Linked DNA regions of Homo sapiens. The protein of the gene in region 2 purifies or fractionates together with the protein of the main gene of each other region. This does not show direct contact. Each region holds a gene or a part of one and is shown on either strand. Other genes may lie near its edges.

Evidence for each region.
Region 1: the proteins of SLC33A1 (region 2) and NXPE3 purify together in Homo sapiens (affinity purification with mass spectrometry; one large-scale study listed by BioGRID and IntAct). This does not show direct contact.
Region 3: the proteins of SLC33A1 (region 2) and CLCN7 purify together in Homo sapiens (affinity purification with mass spectrometry; one large-scale study listed by BioGRID and IntAct). This does not show direct contact.
Region 4: the proteins of SLC33A1 (region 2) and EIF3J purify together in Homo sapiens (affinity purification with mass spectrometry; one large-scale study listed by BioGRID and IntAct). This does not show direct contact.
Region 5: the proteins of SLC33A1 (region 2) and HSP90B1 purify together in Homo sapiens (affinity purification with mass spectrometry; one large-scale study listed by BioGRID and IntAct). This does not show direct contact.
Region 6: the proteins of SLC33A1 (region 2) and MAP4 purify together in Homo sapiens (affinity purification with mass spectrometry; one large-scale study listed by BioGRID and IntAct). This does not show direct contact.
Region 7: the proteins of SLC33A1 (region 2) and CAP1 purify together in Homo sapiens (affinity purification with mass spectrometry; one large-scale study listed by BioGRID and IntAct). This does not show direct contact.

What each region holds. Positions count from the first base shown.
Region 1 is NC_000003.12:101,817,211-101,820,710, forward strand, and holds part of NXPE3 (NXPE family member 3 isoform 1 precursor), read left to right. Parts: intron 1-3,500.
Region 2 is NC_000003.12:155,823,428-155,826,927, reverse strand, and holds part of SLC33A1 (acetyl-coenzyme A transporter 1), read left to right. Parts: 3' UTR 1-3,500. UniProt on the Homo sapiens protein: Acetyl-CoA transporter that mediates active acetyl-CoA import through the endoplasmic reticulum (ER) membrane into the ER lumen where specific ER-based acetyl-CoA:lysine acetyltransferases are responsible for the acetylation of ER-based protein substrates, such as BACE1.
Region 3 is NC_000016.10:1,465,029-1,468,528, reverse strand, and holds part of CLCN7 (H(+)/Cl(-) exchange transporter 7), read left to right. Parts: intron 1-3,190; coding exon 3,191-3,262; intron 3,263-3,500. UniProt on the Homo sapiens protein: Slowly voltage-gated channel mediating the exchange of chloride ions against protons. Functions as antiporter and contributes to the acidification of the lysosome lumen and may be involved in maintaining lysosomal pH.
Region 4 is NC_000015.10:44,554,147-44,557,646, reverse strand, and holds part of EIF3J (eukaryotic translation initiation factor 3 subunit J), read right to left. Parts: intron 3,095-3,500; coding exon 2,980-3,094; intron 159-2,979; coding exon 1-158. UniProt on the Homo sapiens protein: Component of the eukaryotic translation initiation factor 3 (eIF-3) complex, which is required for several steps in the initiation of protein synthesis.
Region 5 is NC_000012.12:103,940,410-103,943,909, forward strand, and holds part of HSP90B1 (endoplasmin precursor), read left to right. Parts: intron 1-1,000; coding exon 1,001-1,138; intron 1,139-1,219; coding exon 1,220-1,297; intron 1,298-1,422; coding exon 1,423-1,488; intron 1,489-2,117; coding exon 2,118-2,387; intron 2,388-2,664; coding exon 2,665-2,910; intron 2,911-3,328; coding exon 3,329-3,465; intron 3,466-3,500.
Region 6 is NC_000003.12:47,855,917-47,859,416, reverse strand, and holds part of MAP4 (microtubule-associated protein 4), read left to right. Parts: intron 1-1,904; coding exon 1,905-1,986; intron 1,987-3,500. UniProt on the Homo sapiens protein: Non-neuronal microtubule-associated protein. Promotes microtubule assembly.
Region 7 is NC_000001.11:40,064,729-40,068,228, reverse strand, and holds part of CAP1 (adenylyl cyclase-associated protein 1), read right to left. Parts: intron 2,015-3,500; coding exon 1,909-2,014; intron 690-1,908; coding exon 512-689; intron 1-511. UniProt on the Homo sapiens protein: Directly regulates filament dynamics and has been implicated in a number of complex developmental and morphological processes, including mRNA localization and the establishment of cell polarity.

The DNA.
Region 1 (3,500 bases), about 54 Mb from region 2:
TGAGGTTTATGTCACTGATGAGCTGTATGACTTTGGACAAGTCATTTACTTTTTAGGGCTTCATTTCTCCATGTGTGAGATGAGACAGCTGGACCATGTCACTTCACAGGTGTCTTTCCCTTCTAATATTCTGGGTTGTAAAATAGAGGTGGGCATTTCCAGTTGTTTCTCCCCTAGTTCTGTCTCATCCAACTCCAAGTTTATAGTAGCTTTGAGTAGAAGGAAGCAGCCAGACCTATGGTAGTCCATATTGCATCCTTGCAGCAAAGCCATCCCTGTGTCATCCATTGGGCCTACCATTGGTGTGACTCTGAGATGGAGTTGGCTCCTCCTGAGGGAGTCTGGGTAAGTTCCAGCATTCTTAGCTTCTTGATTTCTCTGCTTGGCTCTGGGGCTGTTCTCCAGACTCAGAACAAAACCCCAGTGGTTGGAGGCCCACCCCTTCTTCACAAGGGCATTCTTTTCTTTCTGGAAGGGGTATGGATGAGGTAAGGAAGGAGGGATCCTGAAGGAGCAGAAATAAAGACCCTGCTTACAATTTAGAGAGCTGATAGTTTTGTGGGAACTGTTTTTAATGGCCATGTGTGGGCAAGGCTTTTAATAAAGTAAAGCCTGATGGTTTGTTGTGAGTTGTTTGTGATTGTTTTTATCAGCCTTTTTATTTATTATGTCAACTTAGTTTTATTGATTGATTGATTGAGATGAGGTCTCACTCTCTCACCCAGGCTGGAGTGCAATGGTGTGATCATGGCTCACTGCAGCCTCAACCTCCTGGGCTCAAGCGATCCTCCCACCTCAGCCTCCCAAGCATTTGGGACCACAGGCGTGAGCCACTGCACTCAGCTAATTTTTTTGTATTTTTTGTAGAGACATGGTCTCACTGTGTTGCTCAGGCTAGTCTCGAATTCTCATGCTCAAGCAGTCCGCCCGCCTCAACCTCCCAAAGTGCTGATGGCTCACACCTGGCCTCAACTTAGTTTTAAATTTAATTTTTAGAAGGAAAGGGGAAGTAGATATTGTCCCCAAAAGTGTAAAGTCAGTTCCACTTTTTGTTTTGCTTGTTTTTTAAATTGAAACAGATATAACTAAGCTTTGTTTGATAAAGTATAATTTGTACATTAGGAGAAGGGAAATACTTTGTATGGCTTGATGCTAGACAAGGTTTGATGTGATGCTGACCAGTGAGGGCCTTCCTAGGTGTCTGTAGTTGCTTGCTTCTTAAATTCTAATGATGTAGCTTGGTATTTCCTTTGATGACAAGGATCACACTGACTGTTTTCATCACGTCCCACCATATACTTTACAGACATATCTTCACCTGATAAAAATAAAGCCTGTGTCAGTGCTTGATCTAATCAAAAGAAAGTGGTAGCTTGAGATTTTATTCAGTTAAAATGGGGCTAAATGCTAAGTAGTAGTTAGGTAGGAAAATCTAGAAGAGAAACCTGGAAATGCAAGGAGAAAAAAATGAAACCTACTTTAACCCTTAAGAATATATGACAATTTATATATATATATATATATATATATATATATATATATATTTTTTTTTTTTTTTTTTTTTTTTTTTTTTGAGATGGTGTCTCACTCTGTCACCCAGGCTGGAGTGCAGTGGTGTGATCTCTACTCACTAAAACCTCTGCCTCGCAGGTTCATGTGATTCTCCTGCCTCAGCCTCCCAAGTAGCTGAGATTACAGGCACCTGACACCATGCCTGGCTAATTTTTGTATTTTTAGTAGAGACGGGTTTCACCGTGTTGGCCAGGCTGGTCTCAAACTTCTGACCTCAAGTGAGCTGCTTGCTTTGCCCTCCCAAAGTGCTGGGATTATGGGCATGAGCCACCTTGCCCATCCTATAGGACAATTATATTCTGATGTTACTTTTTCAAAATTGACCGTGAACTCACTGAGGGCAAGGACTATATAGCTTATCCATCTGAGCATTGCTGGCTTGTAGCACCTATAGTAGTGGGCACTAAGTAGGTGCTAAGGAAATATTAGTTAAATTGGATTGTCAACATTTACTTAAGGCACTTAAGGGAATATTTAGGGATATGAGACACATCTTCTTTCCTCATGGGTGCACGTACTAAGTGATGAATTATACAGAGTTTTTTAGGAATAACAAGGACTGCCACTGATTCCTGGGACCTTCAGAATGTCTCCAGGCAACTGGACCTTGAAATACAACTTAGAGGGAGAAAAGGGAATTTTTAATTTGCGATGCTATCTGTGTTATTCTCATGATAGAGATGGAAGTTTTTCTGTAGGACATTAACATGATTTTTCATCTACAGGGTAAAATTGAAAGTCAAAAGAAACAGGGTTGCTTCTTTCTTTTGCTTATTGCAAAAAGAGGTGTTTGTTTTCATTTTTCAAAATTACATTTGAACTTGCCTTAATTTTATTTTTAAAAACATTCATTTTTAATCAACAGATAAGTATATTTATGGGGTACAATGTGATATTTTATATATATACATTGTGGAATTAGTACATCAAGTAAATTAACATATCCATCACCTCACATACTTACTTTTTTATAGTGAGAATATTTAAAATCTCTTCTTTTAGCAGTTTTGAAATATATGATACATGATTATTTACTATGGTTACCATGTTGTGCAATAGATGTCTAAAACATTTTCCTTCTGAGACCTTGATTAATATTTCCCCATTGCACCTACCCGTCTAGCAGCCCTCTGGTAACCACTATTCTACTCTCTACTTCAACTTTTTTAAGTTCCACATATAAGTCAGTATAAGGCAAATATTGCATGAGGTTCCACATCAAAGACATCTGTGTGTGGCTTATTTCACTTAGCATAATGTCCTCTAGTTTCATCCATGTTGTTACAAATGACGGAATTTCCCCAAAGAAGTATTTGGTTGCTGATATGTGCTCATAAAACAGAAGTTAAAGCCCATGTCTTGAGAGAAATAATATTTATCTGTTAGGAGAATAAAATGTAAATGCCAATTTGATTTTTATAATTTAAATTATCATAAACAGACACTTCTCAAAAGAAGACATACATACAGCCAACAAACATATGAAGAAAAAGCTCAATATCACTGATCATTAGAGCAATGCAAATCAAAACCACAATGAAATTGTGGTTCTCACACCAATCAGAATGGCTATTATTAAAAAGCCAAAAAACAACAGATACTGGCAAGGTTGCAGAGAAAAGGTAACAATTATACACTGTTGGTGGAAGTGTAAATTAATTCGATCATTGTGGAAAGCAGTATGGTGATTCCTCAAAGAGCTAAAAGCAGAACTACCATTCGACCCAGCAATCCCATTACTGGGTATATACCCAGAGGAATATAAATCATTCTGCCATAAAGACACATGCAAGGAAATGTTCATTGCAGCGCTGTTCACGACAGCAAAGACGTGGAATCAACCTAAATGCCCATCAGTGACAGACTGGATAAAGAAAATGTGGTACATATGTACCATGGAATACTATGCAGCCATAAAATTGAGATAA
Region 2 (3,500 bases):
TAAATCCTCCAAAAGTTAGACGAAACAAGATAGTACATTATGAGTCTTAATTTTATCATTGTGGAAAAATGTGTACTAACTCCTGATTTTGTTAATTTTATAACATAGGTTGAATTTTAGAGTGGGGTTTTTATAAGTAATGGAGGATAAAATGGGTGGGAGAAAATGGCACACAGCACCTGAAGAAAGATGGGGCAGTGACCTCTAGAACTCATGCATTGCCATTGGAAAGCCTGTGTTGGGCATCGATGTCAGATCCTGAAGAATCACCTGGAAAAAATCCCATCCTAGAGGCAAGGAGGCTACACCAAACCATACACTACAGTACTTTGTCACATGGTTGTCCATTATCATGTATTAGAGTCTAAATGATTACTTGAATAAAGAAAAAAAACCACTTAACTCTTACATATGAAATGTGTTTTGATTTTTAATTTTTGGATTAAGAAACTCAGATTGCCATAATAACCTTTTATTTCTTCCCGTGTATATTATTACAAATTATATATACTTTCAAACATAGTTTTTTTTTTTTTTAATTGAGACAGAGTCTCACTTTGTCACCCAGGCTGGAGTACAGTGGTGCAATCTCGGCTCACTGCAACCTCTGCCTCCTGGGTTCAAGTGATTCTCCTGCCCCAGTCCTCTGAGTAGCTGGGACTACAGGCGCACACCACCACACCCGGCTAATTTTTGTATTTTTAGTAGAGATGGGGTTTCACCATGTTGGCCAGGCTGGTCTTGAACTCCTGACCTCAAGTGATCCACCCGCCTCGGCCTCCCAAAGTGCTGGGATTACAGGCATGAGCCACTGCGCCCAGCCTTCAAACATAGTTTTAATGTCAGTACATCTTTAATGACTTGAAGTTTTAAAACATTTTAAGCCTTTAAGGTGAAAGCCATTTAATTAATTTGCTCTAGAAATAAGCACAAAAAATTATAGTTAATTTGAATACATGTATGTAATGCATGTCAAAATAACTTGTTAATAGCTATGTGCAACTGTGTTGCATACATTGATCACTAATGGCATTTAAAAATGATCTGCCTAAATCTGAGGATCTGTTTATTATAAATCAGTAGTACTAAAATATACCACCCTGTTTTTATGTTGTGGGTGTTTTTCTTGATTGATTGATCCTGATAAATTAAACAGTACCTTCAAGTATGGACTTTTAACTCCTCCAGTTAATGCATCATATGTTTACTGGCTAATATTAGATTGAACATTTTTCTCTCTATGTCAGTATCTCCATATGCACATTGGTTGCCGCATATATACATCTGAGTTTGAAAAGTTCTTCTGAGATTACCTAAAAGTAACACCACAGATTCCTTCCATTGTAAATACTTTATTTTATTTTATTATTATTTTTTAGAGACATGGTCTCACTTTTGCCCAAGCTGGAGTACAGTGATGCAATCATAGCTCACTGCAGCCTCAAATTCCTAGGCTCAAGGGATCTTCCTTAGGCTGGATGCTGTGGCTCACACCTGTAATCACAACACTTTAGGAGGCCAAGGCAGGAGGATCACTTGAGGTCAAGAGTTCAAGACCAACCTGGTCAATATAATAAGAACCTGTCTTTATGACTTCTTTTTTTTTTTTAATTATCCAGGCATGGTGGTACACACCAGTAGTCCCAGCTACTTGGGAAGCTTAGGCGGGAGGGTTACTTGAACCCAGGAGGTCAAGGCTTCAGTAAGCAGTGATTGTGGTACTACATTCCTGTCTGGGTGACAGAGTGAGACCCTGTCTCAACAACAAAAAAGGATCTTTCCACCTCAGCCTCTCTGGTAGCTAGGACTACAGGCACACAGCACTATGCCCAGCTAATAAAAAATAATAATTTTTTATAGAGGTGGGGTCCGCTATATTTTCCAGGCTAGTCCCAATCTCATAGCTTCAAGCAGTCGTCCAGCCTTGACCTCTCAAAATGCTGGGATTACAGGTGTAAGCCACCGTGCCCTGCCCATGATAAATATTTTAATTTTGCCTGATAAGTCATAAAAAGTTTATTCAACACCTTAAATAGATTTCTCAATTTTTTAAAAATATTAAACCTTTGAAATCGAAAGTAATTTTTGGATTTCACCCCTTTATTGCAAGGTTTTTGATGTCTGTGGGAAAAACCCCTGAATTGCTTGTGAAACTCTGGATATGTAATTTTTTTTCTTTTTCTGAACAGAGTAAAATCTTGGATGGGCCATGATCCAAAAATCATGGTTTTGAAAGTAGACCGTACTATAAGCCATAATCACAAATCTGAGGTAATAGTTGTGAAAGTGTTTAAAACATCCTGAAAACAATGTTGAAAAAAAAAATCTATGATAAAAACTATAAAATCTCTGCATATGTTATACTGTATTGAACTTGAAACTTTGAAGGAATTAGAGTAGATAAGACATTAATGGTAGAAGAGAAACCACAGGGGTGAATTATATCCTACAAAAGAGAAATCTTCATGATTTAACCTTTTTTTTCTGAGTGACTTTTATTTTGCCTTATTAACAGAAACCTGAGAAAGTATGTTGCTTTGTATTAAATGGTTGAGACCATTATTTGATATAAAAGCTGAAAATTTAATTTTTGTATTTTGGAGAATTCTGTGGTTCCAAGTAATTGAAAGAATGACTAAAGCTGTATGTCATAGACCCTGCTAAAATGAAATAACTTGTTGGGAACATTCCATGCAGATTTCCAAAATGTATTTTACCTTATTATTAGAGAAAGAAAATAAACTTTTAAAATAATCTGATAACTAGCATTCATATATTTAATAAGTATTTTGGTTACAGAAGGGAAGGTGATACTGTACATTGTAACTGCTGAGACTTTTTTTTAACCAATGTCTTTGGTAGATAGCGAGGCACAATTATTTTCTCTTAGGGAGGATTTTGAATACCTATTGCAGGCTGGGCATGGTGGCTCACGCCTGTAATCCCAACCCTTTGGGAGGCCGAGGTGGGTGGATCACTTGAGGTCAGGAGTTTGAGACCAGCCTGGCCAACATGGTGAAACGCCGTCTCTACTAAAAATACAAAAATTAGCCAGGCATAGGGTGGCACACGACTGTAATCCCAGCTACTAGGGAGGCTGAGGCAGGAGAATTGCTTGAGCCCGGGAGGCGGAGCTTGCAGTGAGTTGAGATTGCGCCACTACACTTCAGCCTGGGCGACAGAGCGAGACTCCGTTTCAAAAACAAACAAACAAAAACAAAACAAAAACACCTACTGCAGACCATGTTCTTTTTACTTTATTTTATTTTATTATTTTTTTGAGATGGAGTCTGGCTCTGTTGCCCAAGCTGCTCACTGCAACCTCCGCCTCCCGGGTTCAAGCGATTCTCCTGCCTCAGCCTTCCAAGTAGCTGGGACTACAGATGTGCACTACTACGCCCAGCTTATTTTTGTATTTTTGGTCGAGATGGGGTTTTGCCATGTTGGCCAGGCTGATCTCAAACTCCTGACCTTAGGTGATCTTCCCGCCTTGGCCTCCT
Region 3 (3,500 bases), on a different chromosome or scaffold from region 2:
AATTTATAAGAGCTTGCATTTAAAAAAGAAAGTAACCGCACGGAATGCATTGCTGAACTTGAAGTAAACGTCGTGTTCTTCCATTACGAAAGCCACCTTCTCAAAGTCCTGGCAGAGTTAAGGAAAGAGATGCTGGGAAGGCAAGGCGCCGGAGCCCCATCCTTTCACTCCGGGCAGGGGCAGCTGATGCCCTGCTGGGGGGCAACCCCTCACCCCTCACCCCTCTCGGATCTGCCAAGGCGGCGGCGGTGGGGGTGGCCCGCTGGTCACATACTGCACCGGCAGCCTTCACCTTGGCCTGAATGCATGTGCGGCTCTGCCTGCTGCTGTGGGACAGTGCTGTCGTGGTGTAGACGGTGGCCCTCCTCAAGGCCTCCCAGGCCTGGCGCCCAGGACATGTGACTGTGGCTGTTTTCGTTTTGTTTGGGTTTTTTTTTTTAATTTTAGAGATAGGGTCTTGCCGTGTTGCCCAGGCTGGAGCGCAGTGGTGCAACCATAGCTCACTGTAGCCTCGACTTCCCAGGCTCAAGCGATCCTCTTGCCTCAGCCTCCTGAGTAGTTTGGGCCACAGGTACACGCCACCATGCCTTGCTGATTTTGATTTTTTGTAGAGACAGGGTCTCACTACGTTGTCCAGGTTGGCTTTGAACTCCTGGGCTCAAGCGATCCTCCTGCCTGAGCCTCCCAAAGTGCTGGGATTACAGGCGTGAGCCACCACGTCCGGCCAGAATGATCCGTTATTTCCAGCAAGGAATAGCCTGAGAAGCACGGCAGGCCTTGAGTGGCGTTAGAGAGAAGTGCTGACATCTTGAGTGATGGAGAGGGTGGCCCTCTGGGCAGGGTGTGTCCCACAGGGTGCCTGTTTGGACGTGGGGTCCTTCCTCATGGTGAAATGGGTCTTTTGGGTTCCGTGGTCTCTGTTTGGGGCATCGGGGCACCTGTCCACCTGGGAGGTGGGGGTCAGAGGCCCAGCGCTGGTCCCAGGGCTGTTTTCTGGTGGTGAGACCTGGAGTCCAGGGGCTTTGATGTGAGTGTGAGCAAGAGGGAGTGGGCAGCTGGCCAGGCCACTGCTTCCATCATGCCTGGACCGTGGCACCTTCCTCCTCCCACCGTCAGCCCGTGTGGCAGGAGACTCAAGCTGTGAGTTTCGCCTGTGACTGAGGGCTCAGGGAGAGCCACTGGCATGTGGCAAGGCTGGGGGAAGAGGAGGGGCAGGCGCCCTGTGACTCAGGGTTGTGTCCAGCAGGACCTGTGCACTCTAGCCCCTCCCACACTCTCCCCTGGGCGTGGAGATGCCACGGCAGACACCTGCGAGTCTGTCTGTCTGTCTGTCTGGCCTCTGCTCCTGGCTTTTGATGGGGATGGCCTGAGAGTGCTCTTTGCCTGGGGAGAGGAGGAGGCTCTGACTGGTGTCTGCCAAGGGCCAGTGGCACGTGCCCAGGTTCCTTCCCCTGCCAGGGCCACTTACCGGGTCATCAACACGGGGGGTGTACAGCAAGGGCGACGGTGGCTGGTAACAGGACGATGGTTGGGGAAGGGGTCCCTGGAGGGCAGTGGGCTGGAAGGTCAGGTTCTTTTTTTTTTTTTTTTTTTTTTTTTTTTTTTGAGACAGAGTCTTGCTGTTACCTAGGCTGGAGTGCAGTGGTGCGATCTCAGCTCACTGCAGACTCCACCTCCCGGCTTCAAGCGATTCTCCCGCCTTAGCCTCCCAAGTAGCCCGCCTACTTTTTGTATTTTTAGTAGAGATGGGGTTTCGCCATGTTGGCCCAGCTGGTCTCGAACTCCTGGCCTCAAGTGATTTGCCCGCCTCAGCCTCTGAAAGTGCTGGGATTACAGGCATGAGCCACTGTACCCCGCCGGGAAGGTCTGGTTCTGAAGGCAGTTTCTGGGATGGCGGTTTGGGGAGCCCGTCTCCTTCAGGGGTGAGCACTCCAGAGAAAGCAGGACCCCCACCCCTGGCTCGCAGTGACCTCAGATCCCAAACCTTCCTTCTCTGCTTCTGTGTCCTTGCCTGTGTGTGGTAATCGTGATCCCCGTGGATAGGTGGAGGTTGAGGGAAAACTGGGCCCCAGTGCAGGCCGTTCCTGCACGTCTCCCCGTCCCCACCTCGGCCCTGTGGGCTCCTGGCGCCATCACCTGCCGTTCTATCACCAAGAAGCACTTCCAGGCCCTGCTGAAACCTGGTGCGGGAGGCCGAGCCTGAGGAAGGTGGAGGGAGAGATGGGGGGATGAGGAGGGGACGGCGTTGGGGGCCGGGAGGGCTGCTCCCAGGGAAGGCGGGCGGCAGCCTCGTTGGTCTTCCCACGGCCGGTACCAGCCGCTGGACTCCTCCGCCAACACTTTCCTGACAGGCGCACGGGCTCTCTGATGCAGATGGCGGGCGCCCTGCGCATGCGGTCCCTCCACCTGGAAGGCAGCCCTTCTTCCCTTCATGTCCCCAGATGTTGCTAAAGATTCAGGAGATAGTGGAAATTGGAGTCGTCTCCAAAGGATCTCTTTGGGGAAAGGAGGCTGAGGTCTTGGCTCCTCCTAGCCTGGCCTCAGCGCCTTGGCTCTAGTAAGGAGCCGGAGACTGGGGTGGGAGCTCCGTAAGTCACATCTGCACCACGCCACCCAGGGCCCGCTGCCCTGCCCCTGCCCTGAGCTGGGGCGGCCGCAAAGCCTTAGGTGGCTGAGACCCCACCCAGCTCTGCCTGACAGCTGGGCGTCCTGTGGGGAGGGCAGCGTGAACACTGTGGAGCCGTTTGTGTCTCAAGACCCAGAGAGGCTGCAGTGGAGGTGACTCTGTGGAGGTGGCAGGTGGCTGAGCAGGGCCTCGGGAGCAGGGTTGGGCAGGATGGCCCAGGGTGCTGTGGCGGGCACTGCATTGGGGGCGGCGTGTTGTCCAGCCCTTCTTTCCTGGTGGGTGGCAGGTGCCTCGCTTTCAGTCTAGAGCAGGGAGCTTGCGCCCTGGACTCGGGCTGGACGTGTCGCTGACAGGCCGAGGGGCAGCCGGATCAGTTCTGCTTCCAGGGCCCAGGGAGGCCCGTCCCAGCCCTGCTGCCCCCACCCAGCAGGCAGGCCTGGCCTAGCCCATTCCTGAGCTCCCGGGCAGGGTCAGGCGAGGCCAGGGTGCGGCGGCGGGAGTGAGAATCCACGGAGCAGAGCGTGCGACGCCTGAGCGCCCTCATGATTTCTCTTCTGCTTTTAGTCACCACGTTCTGCGCTTTTCCGAGTCGGACATATGAGCAGCGTGGAGCTGGATGATGAACTTTTGGACCCGGTGAGTTGGGGGTGTTCCCCGTCCTCCCGCAGAGCTAGCTGCATCTTAGCAGAGGGTGACAGGGATGGGCACGGGCCGAGCGGCAGGGAGATAGTGGGGCCCCAGGGCCGGGGTTCAGGGAAGATTTCCTTGGGGGGACATGGTCCCTGACGCCAAGTGAGCAGAGGCAGCTGGGCAGAAGTGCTCTCAGACGGAGGAGTGCAGGGCGCAGGAAGCCGGTCAGGACAGCAGTGACAGC
Region 4 (3,500 bases), on a different chromosome or scaffold from region 2:
AATACACACATCTCGAACTAAGACTTCCAAAAAACTGGCATAATATAGTGACTTTTCATATTGTGTAATTTTATCTTTTAGTAACTTTCCAAACTCTGTAAAGTCATCTCTTGAAGATGGGTTCATAGCATCTATTCCATAAACTGCATTATTAACACCTGTAGGAGAAAAGAAGCACTGAAAAGTATCAGGAGGTTAGGATTTTTAAAAATGAAACCTTACAAAGCCAATAGCTATCTGAATAACCCTGTCGTTTCATTCTAAAGCAGGGGCTCTGAACCTGGAGCCACTGGAGTCACTGGATAGAATGGCTGGGTGAGGGGGGAGGGGGGTTACAAACTTAAATCAGAAAAAAAGTTACATCTTTATTAACCTCTAATTCAGCATTTCCTTCAGTTTCAATTGACTGGCAACAAATCACAGTGGTATTAGCAAAACTTGACTTACCAGGAGAGATCACACTCTCCTGCCATTACAGATATCTTACAATATTAATATTGTTCAGTCATAATTACTCTCAAATGACATTATTTGACGTGCCACTACACCTGATTTAATGCATCGATAAGGAAGCATATAATTCTGTATCACAAATTTGTCATTTTAGTATTTTGACATCTATTTATATATAACAGGTTTTCTTTATAAATAAGTATTTTATTCATTTAAAAACAATATATCAAGGCCAGACACAGTGGCTCACACCTGTAATCCCAGTGTTTTGTTTGGGAGGCCTAAGAGGAAGGATCGCTTGAGGCCAGGAGTTTGAGACCAGCCTGGGCAACACAGCAAGACCTCATCTCTACAAAAAAAATTTTTTTAATTAGCCAGGTGTGGCCAGACGCAGTGGCTAACACCCGTAATCCCAACACTTTGGGAGGCCTAGGCAGGCCGATCACCTGAGGTCAGGAGTCCGAGAGACAAGCCTGGCCAACATGGTGAAACCCTGTCTCTACCAAAAATACAAAAATTAGCCAGGCATGGTGGTGGCATGTATCTGTAATCCCAGCTACTTGGGAGGCTGAGGCACGAGAATCACTTCAACCCAGGAGGCGGAGGTTACAATGAGCCGAGACTGCACCACTGCACTCCAGCCTGGGTGACAGAGTGAGACTCTGTCTCAAAAAAATAAATAAAATTAGCCAGGTGTGGTGATATTCACCTGTAGCCCTCGCTACCCGGGAGGCTGAGGTGGGAGGATTGCTTGAGCCCAGGAGTTTGAGGCTGCAGTGAGCTATGGTCATGCCACTGCATTCCAGACTGGATGACTGAGCAAGAACCTTTCTCTAAAAACAAAACACAACATATTACATTACAAAAGGGATACTCTGTTCTTGTCCAAGAACACCCCCACAGTAAAGTGGGGAGAGAGGGAACAAAAAGAATAAGAAACAAAGATGGATCCTGTGAAAGTATTTGTCTAACTCCAGAAGCTAAGCGGGGGTAAACATGTTAAATCCCAATAGAAGAAATCTGGCCTAGGCTGTGCATGGTGGCTCATGCCTGTAATCCCAGCACTTTAGGAGGCCAAGGCGGCAGATCACTTGAGCTCAGGACTTCAACAACAGCCTGGGCAGCATGGTGAAACCTTGTATCTACAAAAAAAGCCCCAAAAAACAAAAATTACCCAGGCGTGGTGGCATGCGCCTGTAGTCCCAGCTACTTGGGAGGCTAAGGTGGGAGGATGGCTTGAGCCCAGAGGCAGAGGTTGCAGTGAGCCGATCTCAGCCACTGTCCTCTAGCCTGGATGACAGAGCCAGACCCTGTTAGAAAAAAAAAAATCTGGCCTAGATGAGTTTTACACTAAGATAAGTATGCTTCTGTATCCTCCATGTCAAGTAGATTAGTTATTAACAATATTACATGTGGTATTTTAGTATGAGAAACACAACAGTAAAATCCTATTAACAATGACTATATGAATGCATGTTTTTACCTTTTAGTCTATAACAGGTGTCCCATGCTAGGCTTTATGCACACTTCATAAACCTGCCTCTTTAATAAACACATGGGCAGCTTTTACCATCCTAGGAAGACACATATTAACAGCCAAGAGCTCTCTATAATTAGATGAGTGCAGTTAAGACCTGCCAAGCATACAATGGTGCACAGGAGCATTCACATCAACTCCTGGTATTTGTACAGATCCACTGACAGATAAGGTCATACTTCCTCATGAAAAGGAAAACAATCACTACAGTCAGCCTGTTGATCTGTTTCAGAGTAGAGAAAGTATGAAAGTGGGGGAGGGGTATCAGAATAACTAGAGCTTTCCTTCTTGGTTATAAATTTCAGTGATTTAACTGTTTCAACATGATCTTCTACTCTGAAAAGTACTCAACAGGTAACGATAACTTGGTTAAATGAAGCGAGGGCTTTGACTATTTCTCTAGCCATGTCTCTTACTCTGGAACACTCTGAATTTATCTATTTATAGGATCCTGCACTTTTATCTCACGCACTAACCACAGCTGCAGACACCGCACAAAGAAATGGAGGCCCTCTAAAGATAGGGCATGGTAAGGGCAAAGAAGGGTTGCAGAAGGAAATGACACTGAGCACAAGAAGGCACAGCAAAAGCTGCATGCCTCTCACCTGGAGCAACATCCTACTGTCTAAGTCTTAAGACAACAGGACAGCCCTACAGTCCATTTCAAAGCTACAGACCTCACATTTCATGCAAATTTCATCCAGCTGATAAAAATATTCTATGCAGTAGTGTACTTCATCTGAGTCTACTCCTTTTTGCCCTTCTTGCATTGCTATAAATGACTTATCTTAATAATCTTTTACTCAAAACAATTATTCAAAAATCTGAACATGTAATGAAATCTCAAATATACACAGAGATTAAAAACTGCTTTCTAATATCTACATTAGCCAGTATGTTTCTTTTAAGAAAAGGAGATGTTTTCTGAACTTTCTGGGTCTTCACCTGTAACAGTTTAATACTGTATTGCAATCATAATCCCGTCTTACCAAAAGTTTCCTTTGCTAATTCGAGGTCTGACTCTTCCTGTAATTTCTTTAGCCGCAGTTTATCTGCTAATTGTTCTTCTGGTGTTAGCACTTTAGGTTCTTCGGGTTCTTCTAACTAAAATGAGACAAAAGTTTTTAAAAAGCACAGGGATTATGATGCACTCAGTACCTTTCTGTATTGTACGAATTCTTAAATAAGCGTATATAATAACAAATAAAAGTGAACACTGGTAATTACTGTTTCAGGCATTCTTCTAAACACTTTAGTTTTTTTTTTTTTTTTTTTTTTTTTAGACAGAGCCTCACTCTGCCACCAAGGCTGGAGCACAGTGGCATGATCTTCGCTCATTGTAACCTCTGCCTCCTGGGTTCAAGTGATTCTCATACCTCAGCCTCCCGAGTAGCTGGGATTACAGGCGTGCACCACCACATCCAGCTAATTTTTGTAGTTTTAGCAGTGATGGGGTTTCACCATGTTGGCCAGGCCGGTCTTGAACTCCTGGCCTCAAGTGATCCGCCCA
Region 5 (3,500 bases), on a different chromosome or scaffold from region 2:
TGTTTAAAGTTAATGTTTCCCCAGCAGCATTTAGTACAAGCAGTAGAATGCTCTAGTGGACTTAACCATAGCTAAATAAAACTTAATATTCTGTGTCTGTATTTGTTCTTTTCTCTATTCCATATCCTTTAAATTTCAACTCTTAAAACACTGTTGGTTCTGCCTTCACTTTTATTTCCATAAACTCTAAAGTCCTAGTGTCTATAAACTTACTTCATATAAAGCAGCTGTATTAGAAATATAATTAATGTGAGCCACACATGATTTGAAATTTTTTAGAAGCCATACAAAAAAAGGAACCATGAAATGTTAATAGTATAATTTATTTAACCCAGCATACCCCAAATAGTATTATTTCAACATAATCAATATAAAAACTAATAATGAGACATTTTATATCCTTTTTAAAATTTGTACTGTGCCTTCAAAATGTATTTTACACTTTAATAGCACATCTGAATTTGAACTAGCTACATTTCAGTGCTTAACAGCCATATACAGTAATAGATAATGCAGATCAAGAGAATTTCCAACTTTGTTTTACAGGTATTTACATACATCTTTGTAGCCACTCTTAGAGCTAAGTTCCATGGAAGAAACATGTTCTTGAGTACTTACTGTAGTTCAAGGGCACACTGAAGTGTTGTATGTAATTTTGTCATTTAGGCAGGGTGGTGGTTTTCCTATTCACTTCTCTCATACGTAAGAAGTATAAACTCATCCTTCCTTCTGAGAGTTTAGGAAATAATGTTATTGACAATCATCATCAAAACAACCATGTCTAGTGAATTAGAATTGCAATTCTAGATATTTCTTCACTCCACCCTTTTCTTTCTCTTCCCCCCACCCTTTTCTTTCTCTTCCCCACCTCCCGCCAGTAAAGGAAAATTTTTTGTTAGTTAATTGCTAAACTGAATATGTACCACATAGTACATTGCTTAGTTCTTGCACTGCTTTTCTCCTGTGTCGTTTGAATGACTAAGATACCAACTTTCCACAGGAAAGTGATGACCCCATGGCTTATATTCACTTTACTGCTGAAGGGGAAGTTACCTTCAAATCAATTTTATTTGTACCCACATCTGCTCCACGTGGTCTGTTTGACGAATATGGATCTAAAAAGAGCGATTACATTAAGGTGAGTTTTTAAGTAGTACATGCTGCGTTTAAAATTTGAAAGTTTAATTTCCAGAAAGTGACTTTTTTTTGGTCTCTTTAGCTCTATGTGCGCCGTGTATTCATCACAGACGACTTCCATGATATGATGCCTAAATACCTCAATTTTGTCAAGGGTGTGGTAAGTATCTGAAGTTTGGGAGAAGGGGTGATTGTTGTGGGGGTCTGGCAGTGTAGAGTGTTTGTTTGGCTTTGCTTTCTTCCAGTGGTTTTATTGCTCACTGAACTTTCTTTTGCCATCTGAAGGTGGACTCAGATGATCTCCCCTTGAATGTTTCCCGCGAGACTCTTCAGCAACATAAACTGCTTAAGGTAAGTGTCTCTGGGAAGAAACTCTCCACTTTGCTGTTTGATTGGGGTTCAGAGGACAGGCTCCATTTGTGGAGTAAAACCAGATTTTGGGTCTGGTCCATGATTCTTCAGATGAATTTCCTTTCTTTCTGGAGTTATCAGATCCTAAGAATCTGATTCTTTTTCTCCCAACATTTAATAATGAAGTTTCAAACATCTAGAAAAAAATTAAAGAATTGTACAGGTCCAGGATTAACATTTTGTCATCTAGACACATAGCCACCTTTTTATCAAGCCTTTCATTAAACCTTTCCCCTCCAATACTTCCATAATTAGAAGACTCTTTAGTTTTTGAATTTAAAAGTATTTGAAAGTAGCATATTTGTTCACTTCATTTAGATGCTAGAGAGAGAGTATCACTGAGTCCTAAGGTTAGAATATAAACATTAAGGCAATCTTGTGGCTATTTGCACGGACAGCTGAATTTCAGCCCAATCTGAATGAATTGGAGTGCTTCACCATTTCCTGCCCCTCAATAAATGGCAATAACGATATCGTCTTTGTGTTTTTCACACTCCTGCCTGGGTACCTTACATTCTCAAAAGTTGGAGATTAACTTCTCTAATCAGTTATTCTTTCATTGTGTTTAGGTGATTAGGAAGAAGCTTGTTCGTAAAACGCTGGACATGATCAAGAAGATTGCTGATGATAAATACAATGATACTTTTTGGAAAGAATTTGGTACCAACATCAAGCTTGGTGTGATTGAAGACCACTCGAATCGAACACGTCTTGCTAAACTTCTTAGGTTCCAGTCTTCTCATCATCCAACTGACATTACTAGCCTAGACCAGTATGTGGAAAGAATGAAGGAAAAACAAGACAAAATCTACTTCATGGCTGGGTCCAGCAGAAAAGAGGTGAGATGAACTCATAAGTGTTGTCAGCCATTCTGGAAGGTAGCTAGGGATTTATAGCCAACTCTTGAGGGGGAGAAAAGGAAAACTTAATTGTGTAACTGGAGTAGTTATAAGGCCTGGTCAGTCACTGACAGGAAGGTCATTTATATTCTCTGAACCTCTTAATTCTTCACCTGTAAAATGGAGTTTTTAATAATGTATAAACATAGCAGCTGCTAGGATAAACAAATACACCAGGGCCAGACTTGGAAAACTTTGTGACTTCTTAATTTTGTAGGCTGAATCTTCTCCATTTGTTGAGCGACTTCTGAAAAAGGGCTATGAAGTTATTTACCTCACAGAACCTGTGGATGAATACTGTATTCAGGCCCTTCCCGAATTTGATGGGAAGAGGTTCCAGAATGTTGCCAAGGAAGGAGTGAAGTTCGATGAAAGTGAGAAAACTAAGGAGAGTCGTGAAGCAGTTGAGAAAGAATTTGAGCCTCTGCTGAATTGGATGAAAGATAAAGCCCTTAAGGACAAGGTACTGTGGAAATTACAAATTGTGGAAATATTAGTATCAGCATTTAAGAGAAAGTTATTTTGTGAACAAATTAAGCTGCAGCTGGTTACTTTGTAACCATTAGAATGGTAAAAATTTAATTAATGTAATTAAATTATTGGGAGAAAGCTTAAAACTTTCGACAATACTGCTTTGTTAATAACTTGTTACAAATTAAATTTTATGTTTTTAAAAGGTGGTATTTAAACTTCTGACTAGAAAATTCAGATTATCAAGTAAGTGCCCCTACAAATTCTCCTAAACCTTAAGAAAAGCTATTTTTATGACCTGCTTCTGTGTTTATGATCTTAAGTGATAAAGTCTTAGACAGTTGAAAGACAATTGCTCAATGACCTTACCTGTTGATATTAATTTATATGACTTGATTTCTTTCCCTAAGATTGAAAAGGCTGTGGTGTCTCAGCGCCTGACAGAATCTCCGTGTGCTTTGGTGGCCAGCCAGTACGGATGGTCTGGCAACATGGAGAGAATCATGAAAGCACAAGCGTACCAAACGGGCAAGGACATCTCTACAAAGTAAGCATCCTCGGGAAAGTCCCTGCCAGGGCGTT
Region 6 (3,500 bases), about 110 Mb from region 2:
TACTGGTGGCATTATATCTGTCCTCTGGAAACATGGTGAAGACTATATTTCCTGACACCAAAGAAGGGAAAACAGGGCTCAAGAAGGTAGCTCACCATTTAACAGCTTGTGGTGAAACCCACCAGAATGGTGCAACACTGCATGGAGTTGATGTGTTGGAAAGTCAGGCTCTCCCACAGTACCTACCAGAGGACAGCGGGGCCGCTCACAGGAATGCTGGAATCCCCATCCAGCAACCCAGAGGGCATGCATGGCTATAGACTTAAAGATGCACCACCTTTTTTTTTTGAGGCGGAGTCTCTTTCTGTTGCCCAGGCTGGAGTGCAGTGGCACGATCTCGGCTCACTGCAAGCTCTGCCTCCCGAGTTCATGCCATTCTCCTGCCTCAGCCTCCCGAGTACTGGGACTACAGGCACCTGCCACCACGCCCGGCTAATTTTTTTTGTATTTTTAGTAGAGACGGGGTTTCACCATGTTAGCCAGGATGGTCTCGATCTCCTGACCTCGTGATCCGCCCGCCTTAGCCTCCCAAAGTGCTGGGATTACAGGCGTGAGCCACCGTGCCCAGCCAAGGTGCACCACCTTTAAATGCAAATTTTTGCATTTTTAGTAGAGATAGAGTTTCACTGTGCTGGCCAGGCTGGTCTCAAACTCCTAGCCACAGGTGATCTGCCTGCCTCAGCCTCCCAAAGTGCTGGGATTACAGGCATGACCCACTGCACCTGGCTGGGAAAATTGTTATAACATGGATTAAGCAGGAATACTATGATTACACACACACACACACACACACACAACGCGCACACACACACACACACACACACACACACCACCCCCTCACCTCTCCCAAGGGGAAAATGCATTGAAAAGGACTAGAAGTAAATATGTTATTCCAGGTTCTCTGGGCAAGGAGTTGATAGGTAAGGATTTGAGATGGAATAAAGGGGATATTTCATGGGAGCCTTGGTGCTGGTGTTTGGACCTGGTGAAATGACAGAAGAGCTGTCTGGAGCATGCATGGACAGGGTCTGCACAGAAAGACCTGTGGGGTGTGGAAATGGTGGTTTGGTCTGGCTGGAGGTGGGGTTAGAAGTGAAGGCTGGTGGCCGGGCGTGGTGGCTCACACCTGTAATTCCAGCACTTTGGGATCCTGAGGCAGGCGGATCACCTGAGGTCAGGAGTTCGAGACCAGCCTGACCAATATGGAGAAACCCTGTCTCTACTAAAAATACAAAATTAGCTGGGCGTGGTGGCGCATGCCTGTAATCCTAGCTACTCCAGAGGCTGAGGCAGAAGAATCACTTGAACCCGGGAGATGGAGGCTGGGGTGAGCCAAGATCGTGCCAGCCTGGGCAACAAGAGTGAAACTCTGTCTTAAAAAAAAAAAAAAAAAAAGTGAAGGCCAGGCGTGGTGGCTCACGCCTGTAATCCCAACACTCTGGGCTCTGGAAATCTGAGGTGGGTGGATCTCCTGAGGTCAGGAGTTCGAGACCAGCCTGGCCAACATGGTGAAACCTTGTCTCTACTAAAAATACAAAAAATTAGCCAGATGTGGTGGTACACGCCTGTAATCCCAGCTACTCGGGAGGCTGAGGCAGGAGAATTGCTTGACCCCAGGAGGCGGAGGTTATAGCGAGCTGAGATCGTACCACTGTACTCCAGCCTGGGCAACAGAGCGAGACTCCATCTTTAAAAAAAAAAAAGGAAGTGAAGAGCAGGGCCAGGGTGGGTCGAGGGCTCTTTTAAGTACTTAGGGAGATGACCTTGTCTTTGACCAGACTGAGATAGCAGCTTACAGAGGGAGCGAGAAACCCTGAACATGGAGAAGATTTAAAAGGTAGCATGGGGTTGGCTCTGACAGTATACCTTCTCTCTGAATGAGTCTTTTGTGTCCTTCTCTTCAGGTTCAGATTCAGAACAAGAAAGTGGACATCTCTAAGGTCTCCTCCAAGTGTGGGTCTAAGGCTAACATCAAGCACAAGCCTGGTGAGTGGTGCCTCCCTTGCCCACTGGGTCTCCAGGGTATGTCGTCCTGCCATGGGTCAGCTGGGCAGCCAGCTGGCTGGCAAGGGTTTCATCTCTGTGCCTTTAGCATCCCATGAAGACTACCCAGGACACCACAGTCCTCATTCTGTCAGGGAGCAGGAGTTCGGGTGCTAACCTCTAAGTGGAGGAGGAGCAGTTTCTTACAGCAGCCATCTGCACAGGCATTCTCTTGAGTACCTACTGTGTGTGTGGAACTATTGAGCTAGGCCTGGGGAAGTGGTGCACTCTGAGCTGAGAACCTGGATTGGCTCTAAACGAGGATTACAGAAGCTACTGCTGAAGGAGCTGTATAGAGGGCAGTGTTCAGGTCCCACCTATCAGATGCAGGAGCAAAGGGTGCTCCCAACCAGTGAAGCATCAGCCGCTAGCCCTGGCAGGAGAATGGGAGGCGTTCAGCAACTTGCACTAATGCAGTTTCCTTCCAGCAACATGGTTGGCCCAGCGCCCCTGTGGAAGTCGCTGTGCGGAGGCTGGGCTCTTGCCTTGGGTAGTCCCCTAGCAGCCTCGTGTCCTAGTTCCTGGGTCTACAGCAGATTTGTGAGTAGGACTGCTGTAGCAGCAGGCACACTGGCTGGCAGACCTGGTATCCCAGAAGGCTAGCCACCACAGGCCAGATAAGGTGAAGGCAAAACTCTCTTCCCTCAGGGCGGGCGCGGTGTCTCATGCCTGTAATCCCAGCACTTTGGGAGGCCAAAGCGGGCGGATCACTTGAGGTCAGGAGTTTGAGAACAGCCTGGCCAACATGGTGAAACCCTGTCTCTACTAAAAATACAAAAACTAGCTAGGTGTGGTGGTGCATGCCTTTGGAGAATTGCTTGAACCCAGGAGGCAGAGACTACAGTGAGGCGAGAGTATGGCACTGCACTCCAGCCTGAGCAACAGAGCGAAATTCTGTCTCCAAAAAGAAAAAAAAAAAACTCCCTTTCCCTCTCAGCGAAGAGCATGATCCAGTTTAGAATGTGTTCTATTTAGAAAGATCAAAACAGTTCTGTCCTTAACTAACCATTTTTTTCCCCTTTTATCTGGGAAATCTCCTATCAGATACTTCCTTCTCTAATGACACTGAGTCACTTAGGGTCTAGTTTTTGCCAGGGCTGGGTTTCCCAATATGGGACACCGGGAGACCTCGGCCAGAAGCTGTGCGTGGAGGTCTGCCATGTGAGCTGAGAGGAGATGGAAGAACAGGAGAAGGGGCCCAAGGGAAACCACGCTGCTGGGCGCGGGAGGGGCTGGGTACTCATTGAGGGCAGCTCGTCCCGCACCCTTCCCCTTGGTCTCATGGGCACACTCTGGCCAGTGAGCTCTGAACCCTGGGCGTGAGTTCAGACCACTTTCCCTCCCCGTCCTAGCCTGAGGTCACTAGATCCCAGGCCTGCCTTGGTCCATGTCTTTCCTTCCTCAGCGCACAGCCTCGGGGCCACTCTGTCCTTTTTATTATTCCTTCTTTTTGCTAG
Region 7 (3,500 bases), on a different chromosome or scaffold from region 2:
CTTACAGTTGGATTTAGGTTGTTACACCATTTTTAGCTACTATGATCATAGATTCCTAGAAGTGGCTGGACAACTCAGACTTCCACCAGCTGTGTTAAGGGTATCTACTTTATACCAACATTAGGTCACTCTCATGCAAATTTTCCATGTAACCAGTATGCATCTTCTGAGGAAGTTAACTCCCTAACACAATGCCTTCCCAGAGGCCATGTGGTGCCACGGAAAAAGCTCTGGGGAAAACCGCCAGCTCTGTGCCTTGGCACAAGAGGGTCCTCTATATATGCTACCTAATATTAAGTCACTTTCCCATGGGGCAGATGGCTTCCTCCAACTGTGATCATCATTTTCAATTTCCATTTAAGCCAGCTTTGCCGTCCCTTAAAGGAACAGGACACACCAAACGAGTCTCCACCACACAAGCCAGGGTTGTAGTTTACAGACGGTTCTGGTTGGTGGGGTCTGGCCCACACAACTTGTTGTACCTACTGTTCGTGTCCAAGTGCTCACTCACCATGTGTAATGCTCTCCCCCTGATTAATCTGCGCGAACAGTGATGAGCGGGAAGCAGACTCATATGAGCATGAAATGGTAGAGACTGGGGGAGGAGGGGGGCATGGTGGAGGGGGAGGAGGACATGATCCGGCAGAGGGTCCAGATGGCAGTCCGCTCAGTTCTTTTGCCACAGGCCCCTGGAACAATAAGTGCAGGTAACATCATCATCCTCTCTGCTCCCCTCTGTACCATTCCCAGTAGTGCCCTACATGGGCCAGTGCACATGGGGTCCCCACCACAGCCTTTGAGGCAATGATTAATGTGTCCTACCCATACCCAACTTGGCTTTATGCCTTCTCACCCTTTCCCAAGGATCCAGCTCTCAGTTCTATTTCTTGACCATCACATTTTGCCTTTGAACTCACCTGATTCCAGCTCTAAAAACTATTTCCACAAATCTACTTGACATCTTCCTTAGTGTGTTACCAGTACCTCTGATTCAACAGATTCAAAACTGATTTCATCATTTCCTGCCGCTCCTCTCCCTGTACAATCATCCCCTTGTCCCTATTTCAGTGAAAGATGTTACTATCCAAGACTGACTATTCAATCTTCTTTGAGGATTCCAACTTCTTCGACCTTATCAAATCTCTATTATCTTGGTGCTATCTCCTGCAAATGTTTTTCTACTATCCCCCAAACACCATGACCACTTTCATAATCTGAGCATGAGTCCTTATCCCTAACCTATACACTGAGACTCTTTTAAAGACAAATTGAATCATTATCACTCCCTTGCTCAAATACCTCATCCCAAAGTCTCAGCCTACCTTCCTTTCCAGCCTTTTCTCCTAAAATTCTGATCATTTCCCCTTATTGAAGCCAGAGATGACCAATCTCTACATTTACTCTGCATGTATTTTGTTTAAGCTGTGCCTTTTGTAGTATCCCACTTCTCACTGCCCTATACTACTTTCAAGTCTCACAGAAGAGTATATACCTTCAAAGTACAATCTCTTCTAGTGAGAAGCACTCTTCTCTTCCTCATACTCTAGTCTGTATCTTTATTATAGCATTTGGCTTGGTGATTTGTATTGGGGTTTTGCATTCTTATTTTTAAGCTCCTTAAAGGCTGGGATAGTGTAACTCATTTGTGTGTGTCTCCTGCTCCAGCACCAATCACTGTCCCTAACATATTTATTGAAATTGAATACCACTGAATATTCCTTCTCCTCTGATCCTTGCTTCCTCTACTCTTTTTACCCTTTCTTTCTCCTCCTTTTCTTCCTCCCTTCCACTGAAAAAACTAGCATTCCCTCACAGACTTTGGTAGTGCTGAAGTCTAAGAAACCTGTGGACCCCATGCTGGAGAGAGAAAGTGGGAGGGAGGGAGGGAGGGAGGAAGGATTCACTAACCGTTTTGCTCCAGGCCAGTCCGGTGGTATGGAACTCCTTAATGTAAGCCTGCAGCTCTGTCCATATACTTAAATAAGCTTTGACCCAGTCTACATGCTTCTTATCCCTGGGAGGATTAAAGAAGAACTTGTCACAGGTGATCCGGGTACATAACAGTGGTGACTCCAGAACCCTTCTTTCCTATGGGCTCACATTCTCCTACCCGTGGTGTTTCTTAGGCTCCGCTCAATGGCAGCTTTTCTATCATCACCAGCTTCTATGTATATACAACCTAGTCTATTACCCTAATCAGACCAAACTCCACTAAGATAGAGACTCTGGATTCTATCTCTATCTCTCATAGCAATGTTTCTCAAACTGTTTTAAGTACCAAAACTTTTTTTTTTCTTTTGACCACTTGCTGCTTATTGAAACTTTTTTCAAAGTAGACCTTAAACACAATCTAATATGTAAAACTGATAAAAGCAGACATTCTGTGCATAAAACCATGGTAGAGAGGAGAGCTCTTAAGTATCACTGTGGAACTCTAAAGACTAAGAAACTTAACTGCCTTATGAGACAATGCCTTATGTCAAAATATGCCCACCCTGACCAAAAGCAAACTTAAAAACTTTCCCTTAGGGGGAAACAATCAGCCTTAAATTATAGAAATAGCATTGTGCCTACGGTTCAAGTCCCCTCTCTTCTTATGTATTAACTGGGAAGGTTATTTAGCCTAAGACCTAGTTTCCTCAACTGTAAAGTGATGGGATAATGGTGGGATATATCAAAACACTGTCATGCTTAATTCCATGTTGCTAGAAGGATAAGGAAGTGCCTGTTGTTCTGGGACACATTTCACTCACAGGAAGGTGTAGTTTTCCTTAAAAAGAGTAGTTAATAAATGTTTGTTGATTGATGAAGGATGGAAGAAAGGAAAGGCTTGTGTAGATATGCAACTTAATAAATTTTGCCTGCAATCATTCCAGCTCAAAACCAGCAATGGAGAAGTCAGAACTGGTAGACGTATGTGGTTAGACATGCAATGACTGCCCTACGTAATACCTGCATTGGCTAGGCAGCCTTACTCTCACTTTAACTGACTTCATGAAAAATTTCTATTAAGTCCTATTGAACCCTTTGCCATTGGGCCAGTAACAAATTCTCAACAAAGGAACAAAATCTTATATAAAGGGCATTAGTCCATGTTACTGCCAGCAAAACTTCCTAAACCCAGAAGGGTAAGGATCAGAAGACTAAAAGGGCCTCTACCAAAAAAGGAGAGAAAGCAGAAGTGGAAGCAGAAGTATTTCCTGCTTGCAAATGCAGCTGTGAGACAATATCTGTAAAGCTCTCCAGAAAGCAGCCCTGAGATAAAACCAGCACAGTGGCTAAGGGCAGCCCTCAGTAACTCCAAAGTGCTACTCCAGCAAGTAACCAAATGGGTTTATCCTTTACCCCTTGAGAAAAAGCTGAACTTGGCTGGGCACAGTGGCTCACACCTGTAATCCCAGCACTTTGGGGAGACCAAGGCAGGAGAATCATTAGAGACCAGCCTGGGAAACAGTGAGACCTCATCTCTACGAAAAAATTAGAAAATTAGCCAGGCATGG